2 linked regions of the Homo sapiens genome follow. The protein of the gene in region 1 purifies or fractionates together with the protein of each later gene. This does not show direct contact. Each region holds a gene or a part of one and is shown on either strand. Other genes may lie near its edges.

The links.
Region 2: the proteins of PIK3R6 (region 1) and ASRGL1 purify together in Homo sapiens (affinity purification with mass spectrometry; one large-scale study listed by BioGRID and IntAct). This does not show direct contact.

Annotation. Positions count from the first base shown.
Region 1 is NC_000017.11:8,864,740-8,869,146, forward strand, and holds the start of PIK3R6 (phosphoinositide 3-kinase regulatory subunit 6), read right to left. Parts: upstream 2,936-4,407; 5' UTR 2,790-2,935; intron 1-2,789. UniProt on the Homo sapiens protein: Regulatory subunit of the PI3K gamma complex. Acts as an adapter to drive activation of PIK3CG by beta-gamma G protein dimers.
Region 2 is NC_000011.10:62,382,296-62,386,104, forward strand, and holds part of ASRGL1 (isoaspartyl peptidase/L-asparaginase), read left to right. Parts: exon of another isoform or gene 1-953; intron 954-3,809. UniProt on the Homo sapiens protein: Has both L-asparaginase and beta-aspartyl peptidase activity. May be involved in the production of L-aspartate, which can act as an excitatory neurotransmitter in some brain regions. Is highly active with L-Asp beta-methyl ester.

The sequences.
Region 1 (4,407 bases):
TGTTGGCCAGGATGGTCTCGATCTCTTGACCTCGTGATCCACCCACCTCGGCCTCCCAAAGTGCTGGGATTACAGGCGTGAGCCACCGCACCCAGCCCCTTCACAGTTCCTGGCAGAGGGATGAGATCAGAGACAAAGAATGAAGGGATGAATGAATTGGGATTCAGAGAGCATTCTTCCTTAAACACAGAACATCAGCACTGAACAAGTCGCAGGCCAGGTGCACACACACAGCTCATCACTCCCTTGGGGTACAACAAGCCCAAGGACTGACCACAGAACCATAGAAGCCTTCTATGGACACGGCAAAAAGAAGCAAATGGGGACCACCTGTTCACAGCTGCTGCTCCCTGTTGTTGGTGTGAGATAAAGTGGGGGTGACCTCCTGGATAGAGGAGAAGACTGAAGTAAGAGGGCTTGGAGGAAGATCTGAGGAAGCCTGGCTCAGGTTCAGAGTTTCTGAACCTGAAGATTCTGAACATGAAGATTCCAGATCTGACTGTCCCTTGTGCCCCCATCCCCCCAGCTCACCATTGCTGGCTTCTCGGACAAGCTGTTCAGACAGAAGAACCCACCACCTAGGCCTCCCTATACCTGCAGGAATAAAGCCTGGGCAGAAAAGATGTGGAGCTTCCAGGCCTCCCTATACCACAGCTGCAGGAATAAAGCCCTGGCAGAAAAGACGGGGAGCTTCCCAGGGCCACACTCTGTCTGCCTCCTGTCCTCCAGCCACTCCTGTGGCACAGAGAGAGGGGACCTGCAGAGCCTGGGTCACCTGCCTCTGTTGCCTCCCCTCTTCTCCCACCAGAGCTGCCTCGTGCCCTCAGGGTTTCAGGGGCAGCTCAGGCTTGCCAGACGTCATAGCTGTGTTTTTTTTTTTTTTGGATCGGAGCGTGTGGTGAGTGAGCTGGCAGTGAGGGACTAAGGGAGTGAGAGGACAGAGCTCTGGGTCCTGAGGGGGCCCCCTCAACCTTTAGCCCTTGCCCCCATGAGGTCTACTTCTCAGATTCCCAAGGAGCCGGGAGGTGAGGGTCCTGCTGCCCTGGCTGGCCCCCGTGGACAAGGACAGGCCTGTTTCCTCAGCTGTGTCTGCTTCTGGCTGGAAGGAAACACCTGGATATGAAAGAGCCAGTGGGGTGGGGGTGGGGGAGCATTGTTCCCAGGGGCAGGGAAGCTTGGTGGGATCTGAATTCAGGTGGGGCCTGAATGCAGCAGGGACCAGATGGCGATGACTGCAGCTTGGCATCTGCAGCCACCGTGTCAGCCGAGGCGCTTTCGTGGAGACAGTGTAGGGCCTGCAGCAGGTTCTAGTGTGAGGCAGCGGGGCATGGTGGCCAGGCAGGTGGCATTCCAATCCTGTTAATAGGGCAACTTGGGCTGCTTGCTTAAAACCTCCGTGCCTCAGTTTCCCTATCTTAAAGGGGACCTGACAACAACACCTACCTCATAGGCTTGTCATGAGACTAAATGAGATGATATTTGAAAACCACATAGAGCTAAATAAATAAATGGACCGGGCCAGGCGCTGTGGCTCATGCCTGTAATCCCAGCACTATGGGAGGCCGAGGTGGGTGGATCACGAGGTCAGGAGATCAAGACCATCCTGGCTAACACGGTGAAAACACAAAAAATTACTACTAAAAATACAAAAAATTAGCCAGGCGTGGTGGTGTGTGCCTGTAGTCCCAGCTACTTGGGAGGCTGAGGCAGGAGAATCGCTTGAACCCAGGAGACGGAGGTTGCAGTGAGCCGAGATCGCACCACTACACTCCAGCCTGCGCAAAAGCGTGAGACTGTCTCAACAACAACAAAAAAGGACCGGCCTGCGAGTGCTCCACACACCCCCTCTAGCTGTGCTCCCCCCAACACCTGACTTTCCCACTTGCTTTCCTGCCTCTGGGGGTTTGCACACTTTGCTCCCCATTGCTGAGGTGCCTCTTGCCTCCTCTTTGCACACCAGGTCCTCCCTTGAGCCTCAGCCAGGCACCACCTTCCACGGGACCCTCCCTGAGCCCGCACCCTGCAGTCTCTTTCATCCTGCACACACCACACACCTCCTGGCTCGCTGAGGACCCTGAAGGTTCTGAGTTGGTCACTCGCAGCTGTGTTCAGACCCTCTTTGCAAGCAGTCAGCCCTTCAAGGACAGAGACCAGGCCTCGGTCAGACTCTGGCACACATAGAAGATACTGGATTTGTGTATAGGAAGAGAATCAGCCAGACCAGCATGACTTTCACCAAATTCCCCAGGAAAGTGATGGGCAGATGATGTCCCAGAAAGGGCACAGACTGGGACCCAGATGTTTCACACTGAGTCCTGCTCCTTGCTAACCCACTCTGCAATCTTTGGCAAGTTGCTTCATCTCCCTAAGCCTCAGTCTTCTGTTCTATAAAATGGCACTAAAACACTTATCCAGTCAACCTCTAAATGCTGGTGAGAATCAAATGGGAAAATGGGTGTACTCTGCAGCACCGGGCATCAATCATTAGTCCTATTATTAACAGCATGTACAGGATTCCAGAAGAAAGGAGAGTCCTTCTCACAGGGTCCCGTGTCTTTTCATCTTGTGAAAATGGGCTGAAACAATCTTAACTTGGCAGAATTACCCTGCAGTGTCTGAGGTCACCCTTCTCAGAAAGACGGCCCTGGCAGCCCTGAGCCTGGATAAATAAGAGCCAGGGGTGTTTCAGCCCCCCCAGGGGCTCCCCTTCCAGGTCCCTCCGTTCCACCCCTCTATCTGTTCTGCTCAGATCTGCCTGCCTGGCGATCTCCATCCAAGCCAGCACTTACCTTGGTTCGGTGGCAGCTTCTGGGCTCCCCAAGTCCTTCAGCCAACTCCCCACGGTCCTGAGCGAGGTCCCCAGTCCCAGAGAAGCAGATGTCTTGGGGGAGCCTCCACGGGTGTCTGTGGTCTTGACTGTGCTCTTCAGATCTGCAAAGAAAAGCTCGATGTCTCACAGCTCTGTCCCCTCCTCTTCCTTCCCCTTCCTTGTGGCCCTCGAAGCTCCTCCCAGAATGCATTTTGCTGTGAGGATCCTTTCTAAAGAAGCATGACCCACGGTCACTGGAGGTCCTTTATTCTGATCGAATGTGACCAATTTTATGGGGCAGGAGGGGGACACCTCCCAAGAGACTCCCTCTGGTGTTGACGGGGGAGGGACTGATGCAGGGAGCCCTGACCTCTCTCTCAAGCTCCAGACTCACCAACCATCCCCCACCCCTGGACATGGCCAGCCAGATGTCCCTCAAGCACCTCCATCTCAACAGGTACAAACCGAGCTCATCATTTCTCCCTCTAAGCCCACTTCTCTGTTTCCTGCCTCAGAATCAGCAACCTCGGTATCATCCTAACGCCTCCCTCTTCCTCGCCTGTTACATCTAAACTGCACCAAGCCCTGTCAATAGGTCATGGATCCTCCACTTTCTTCCATCCCTATGGCTGTCACTGTTTCACCTGACTACCATGGTCTTTCTCCTGAAACACTACAATAGCCTGAGGTCCTTCACCCCACAGCCAAAGGTCTCTTTCTAAGAGTGAAACACAAATCTATTCATGTTACACTCCTGCTACAACCTTCAATGGCTCCTTATTACTTTAAAGAGAATGGCCAAACTCCTCAGTGTGACTTGCCAGACCCTTCTTGATCTGGTCCCTCCCTAAACTCCAACCTCATGCTTTATCCCCTCACTCCAGCCCCTCCCAGAAGTACTGCAGTCTCTTAACTATCCAGGCTGTGGGAATCACTTCCCAACCCTTCTCCTGGCTCATCCCTTGTCATTCATTATTTATCAGAGAAGAACAAAAAAACAAGCCTAAGAGGCAGGAGGAAAGTGGAGTGCCAGGGATGCTGGCAGAAGACAGAATGCCAAGGAGGAGACAATGGTCAACGACGCCAATGATTGTGGAGAGGACACAGGTGAAGAGAATGAAGAAGCATCTGCTGTCCTTGGCAATTAGGAGAGAGCAGTGCTGGGCAGGAACAGTAGACCTGCTGGGGGAAGTTGATCAACCGCATGGTGACACATTTGCTACTTTGTCATTTTCTTTTTTTCACATTTTGAAGTCAAACACTATTTGGGAGAGTCTCTGACACATTTCTAGAGCTTTGAAAAACTCACAGATTCTATGCTGTCATCCCGTTGGGCCTAATGGGTAAATGGCTCTAGAGAGTGACAGATTGCTGACAGCAGGGTTTGAGTGCTGGATCCAGCTATGCCTGAAATTCTGGGGCTGAATCTACTCTTGGACTGTTCATTGTACATGATCCAATAAATTCCATTCTTTTTTGGATTAAGCCTGTTGGAGTTTGTCACTTGGCTCAACTCAGAGAGCTTTGGGGCTGTGAAGTCACTGATCCTTTCCCGTAGGGGCTTGACTAGGTTCTATGCTGACCTTTCATTTTGCAGA
Region 2 (3,809 bases), on another chromosome or scaffold:
GTATTTACTGATCATTATCTCTACCATCTGGAGAGGGGGATGTGGCAGGACAATAAGTTAATAGAGAGGAGAGGGTCAGCAGGAAAACATGTGAACAAATGTCTCTGTGTCATAAATAAGGAAAGGTGCTATGCCTTGATGTGCATGTATACAAACATTAAAGAGCAGTATTGTCGCTAGCACCTCTCACCTCCAGCCCTAAGGCTGTTTTCTCCTATCTCAGTAAATAGAACATACAATCGGGTTTTAAACCCAGACATTCTATTGCCCAGGGACAAGCAGGAGACAGATGCCTTCCTCTTATCACAACTGCAAAGAGGCCTTCCTCTTTTACTAATGCTCCTCAGCACAGACCCTTTACGGGTGGGGTGTCGGGCTGGGGGACAGTGTCGGGCTGGGGGACGGTCAGGTCTTTCCCTTCCCACAAGGCCATATCTCAGGCTATCACATGGGGAGAAACCTTGGACAATACCTGGCTTTCCTAGGCAGAGGTCCCTGCAGCCTTCCGCAGTGTATTGTGTCCCTGGGTACTTGAAATTAGAGAATGGTAATGACTTTTAACAAGCATACTGCCTTCAAGCACTTTTTTAACAAAGCACAGCCTGCATAGCCCTAAATCCATTAAACCTTGAGTCAACACAGCACGTCTCTGCGACACAGGGTTGGGGTAGGGTTACAGATTAACAGCATCTCAAGGCAGAAGAATTTTTCTTAGTACAGAACAAAATAGAGTCTCTTATGTCTACTTCTTTCTACATAGACACAGTAACAGCCTGATCTCTTTCGTTTCCCCACAAATCCATATAGTATTTGAGTGTGATAATGTAAAAATCAGTATTCATTTCTAAATCTAAGTACTGCTTTGAGAATTTTGTTGGTAATTCCAGTTGCTGCTGCTTCAGCAGAAGGAAGCTTCTCCAAATTAAAATAAATTAAAAACTTGCTAAAAACTATGTTGACTCAAGAAAGCTTGTCTTTTGCCATTTTGTCAATAGAAGTCACGTTAAGTATAAGAACATCATCAGGGGCCGGGCGCGGTGGCTCACGCATGTAATCCCAGCACTTTGGGAGGCCGAGGCGGGCGGATCACGAGGTCAGGAGATCGAGACCATCCCGGCTAAAACGGTGAAACCCCGTCTCTACTAACAATACAAAAAATTAGCCGGGCGTAGTGGCGGGCGCCTGTAGTCCCAGCTACTCGGGAGGCTGAGGCAGGAGAATGGCGTGAACCCAGGAGGCGGAGCTTGCAGTGAGCCGAGATCCCGCCACTGCACTCCAGCCTGGGCGACAGAGCGAGACTCCTACTCAAAAAAAAAAAAAAAAAAAAAAAAAAGAACATCATCAGGCCAGGCTTGGTGGCTCACGCCTGTAATCCCAGCACTTTGGGAGGCCAAGGTGGGTGGACTGCCTGAGCTCAGGAGTTCATGACCAGCCTGGGCAACATGGTGAAACCCCATCTCTACTAAAAAATACAAAAAATTAGCCAGGCTTGGCAGTGTGCACCTGTAGTCCCAGCTTCTCAGGAGGCTGAGGCAGGAGAACTGCTAGAACCCAGTTGCAGTGAGCCGAAATCACACCACTGCACTCCAGCCTGGGCGACAGGGCAAGAGTTGGTCTCAAAAAAAAAAAAAAAATCAGTACTCCCTGGAATGAAGCCAAGAAAAAATATTTTAATGGAATAAATACATAACTTATTAAATGCATCTGTGTGTGTGCATGTGTGTGTGTGCACGTGTGTGCGTGTGTGTGTGTGTGTGTTTGCCATTCATCTGCCATCACCAGCCGATTAACAAATGACCCTGGTATGCACAATAATAACTAAGTTAAGTCATCATTGGTAGTTTGTCAGCTTGCAGTGAGCCAAGATCACACCCCTGCACTCCAGCCTGGGCAACAGTGCAAGACTCCGTCTCAAAAACAAAAAAAAGTCCGGGCGCAGTGGCTCACACCTTTAATCCCAGCACTTTGGGAGGCCAAGGCAGGCAGATCATGAGGTCAGGAGTTCAAGACCAGCCTGGCCAAGATGGTGAAACTTCATCTCTACTAAGAATACAGAAAAATTAGCTGGGTGTGGTGGTACACGCCTGTAATCTCAGCTGTTTGGGAGGCTGAAGCAGAGAATTCCTTAAACCCGGGAGGCAGAGGCTGCTGTGAGCTGAGATGGCGCCACTGCATTTCAGCTTGGGCAAAAGAGCAAGACTCCATCTCAAAAAAATTTAAAAAGTAGATTTTAGGTACTCTTACCACAAAAAAATAAAGAAAGGTAATTGTGAGATGATAGGTATGTTATTCTAGTTGACTGTAATCATAATTTCACTATGTATATCAAAACATTCATGGCTGGGTGTGGTGGCTTATGCCTGTAATCCTAGAACTTTGGGAGGCCAAGACAGGCAGACTGCCCGAGCTCAGGAGTTGAAGACCACCCTGGGGCCAACATGGTGAAACCCCGTCTCTACTGAAAGACAAAAAATTAGCCGGGAGTGGTGGTGCATGCCCATAATCCCAGCTACTCAGGAGGCTGAGGCAGGAGAATCACTTGAACCTGGGAGATGGAAGTTGCAGTGAGCCGAGATCACACGACTGCACTCCAGCCTGCGCCACAGAGCAAGACTGTCTCAAAAAAAAAAAAAAAGTTCACCTTATATACAGTGAAACATATATACAAGAAAAATACCGATTTTTCAAGATACATTTACCACAGTAACAGGATAGAACATACTTATAACTTCCCAATATTAAATATATGGTATGTGGGCCTCCAGTTGTATTTGTATTGTTGCCATGGCCCCTTGCAAATGTTAGAGGTGGGCCTGCCACCAGCAGGGACTGGGAGAACCCTCCTTCCTTATCTAACAGGTAAAGGGTAACACTGTTACTTTAATTTGCTCTTCCCTTTCCCTGACAGTGAGTTTGAGCATTTTACATTTGTTTATGGGTTTTTCCTTTTTACAAATTTGCCTAGTTTTGTCCTACACTCATTTTTTCCTTTGAATTATTTTTTCCCTTTCTTATCAGTCTCATTGTTTTTTCTTTTACATTTTTAACGTTCTTTATAGATAGATGGGATTTCTCTATGTTGCTCAGGCTGGCCTTGAGCTCCTGGGCTCAAGTGATCCTCCTACCTCTTCCTCTTGAGTAGCAGGAACTACAGGCACAAGCCACTGTACCTGGCTCTTATGAGCCTTAAGGTTATGTTCTGCTGTAAATAAAATTTTAAAAAATCCCAAATCTGCTGTTTTTATTTTGCTTTTGCTATGGTATTTTTGCCACATAAAAGATTTTAGGGCCAGGCGTGGTGCCTCACGCCTGTAATCCCAGCAGCTTGGGTGGCTGAGGCGGGTGGATCACTTGAGCCCAGGAGTTTGAGACCAGCCTGACCAACATGGTGAAACCCCGTCTCTACTAAAAATACAAAATTAGTCGGGCATGGTGGTGCATGCCTGTAATCCCAGCTACTTGGGAGTCTGAGGCAGGAGAATCACTTGTACCCAGTAGGTGGAGATTGCAGTGAGCCAAGATCACGCCATTGCACTCCAGCATGGGCAACAAGAGCAAAACTCCATCTCAAAAATGAAATAAAATAGGCCGGGTGCAGTGGCTTACGCCTGTAATTCCTGCACTTTGGGAGGCTGAGGTGGGTGGATCACAAGGTCAGGAGTTCGAGACCAGCCTGGCCAACATAGTGAAACCCCATCTCTACTAAAAATACAAAAATTAGCTGGGCATGGTGACACACGCCTGTAGTCCCAGGTACTCGGGAGGCTTAGGCAGGAGAATAGCTTGAACCCATGAGGCAGAGGTTGCAG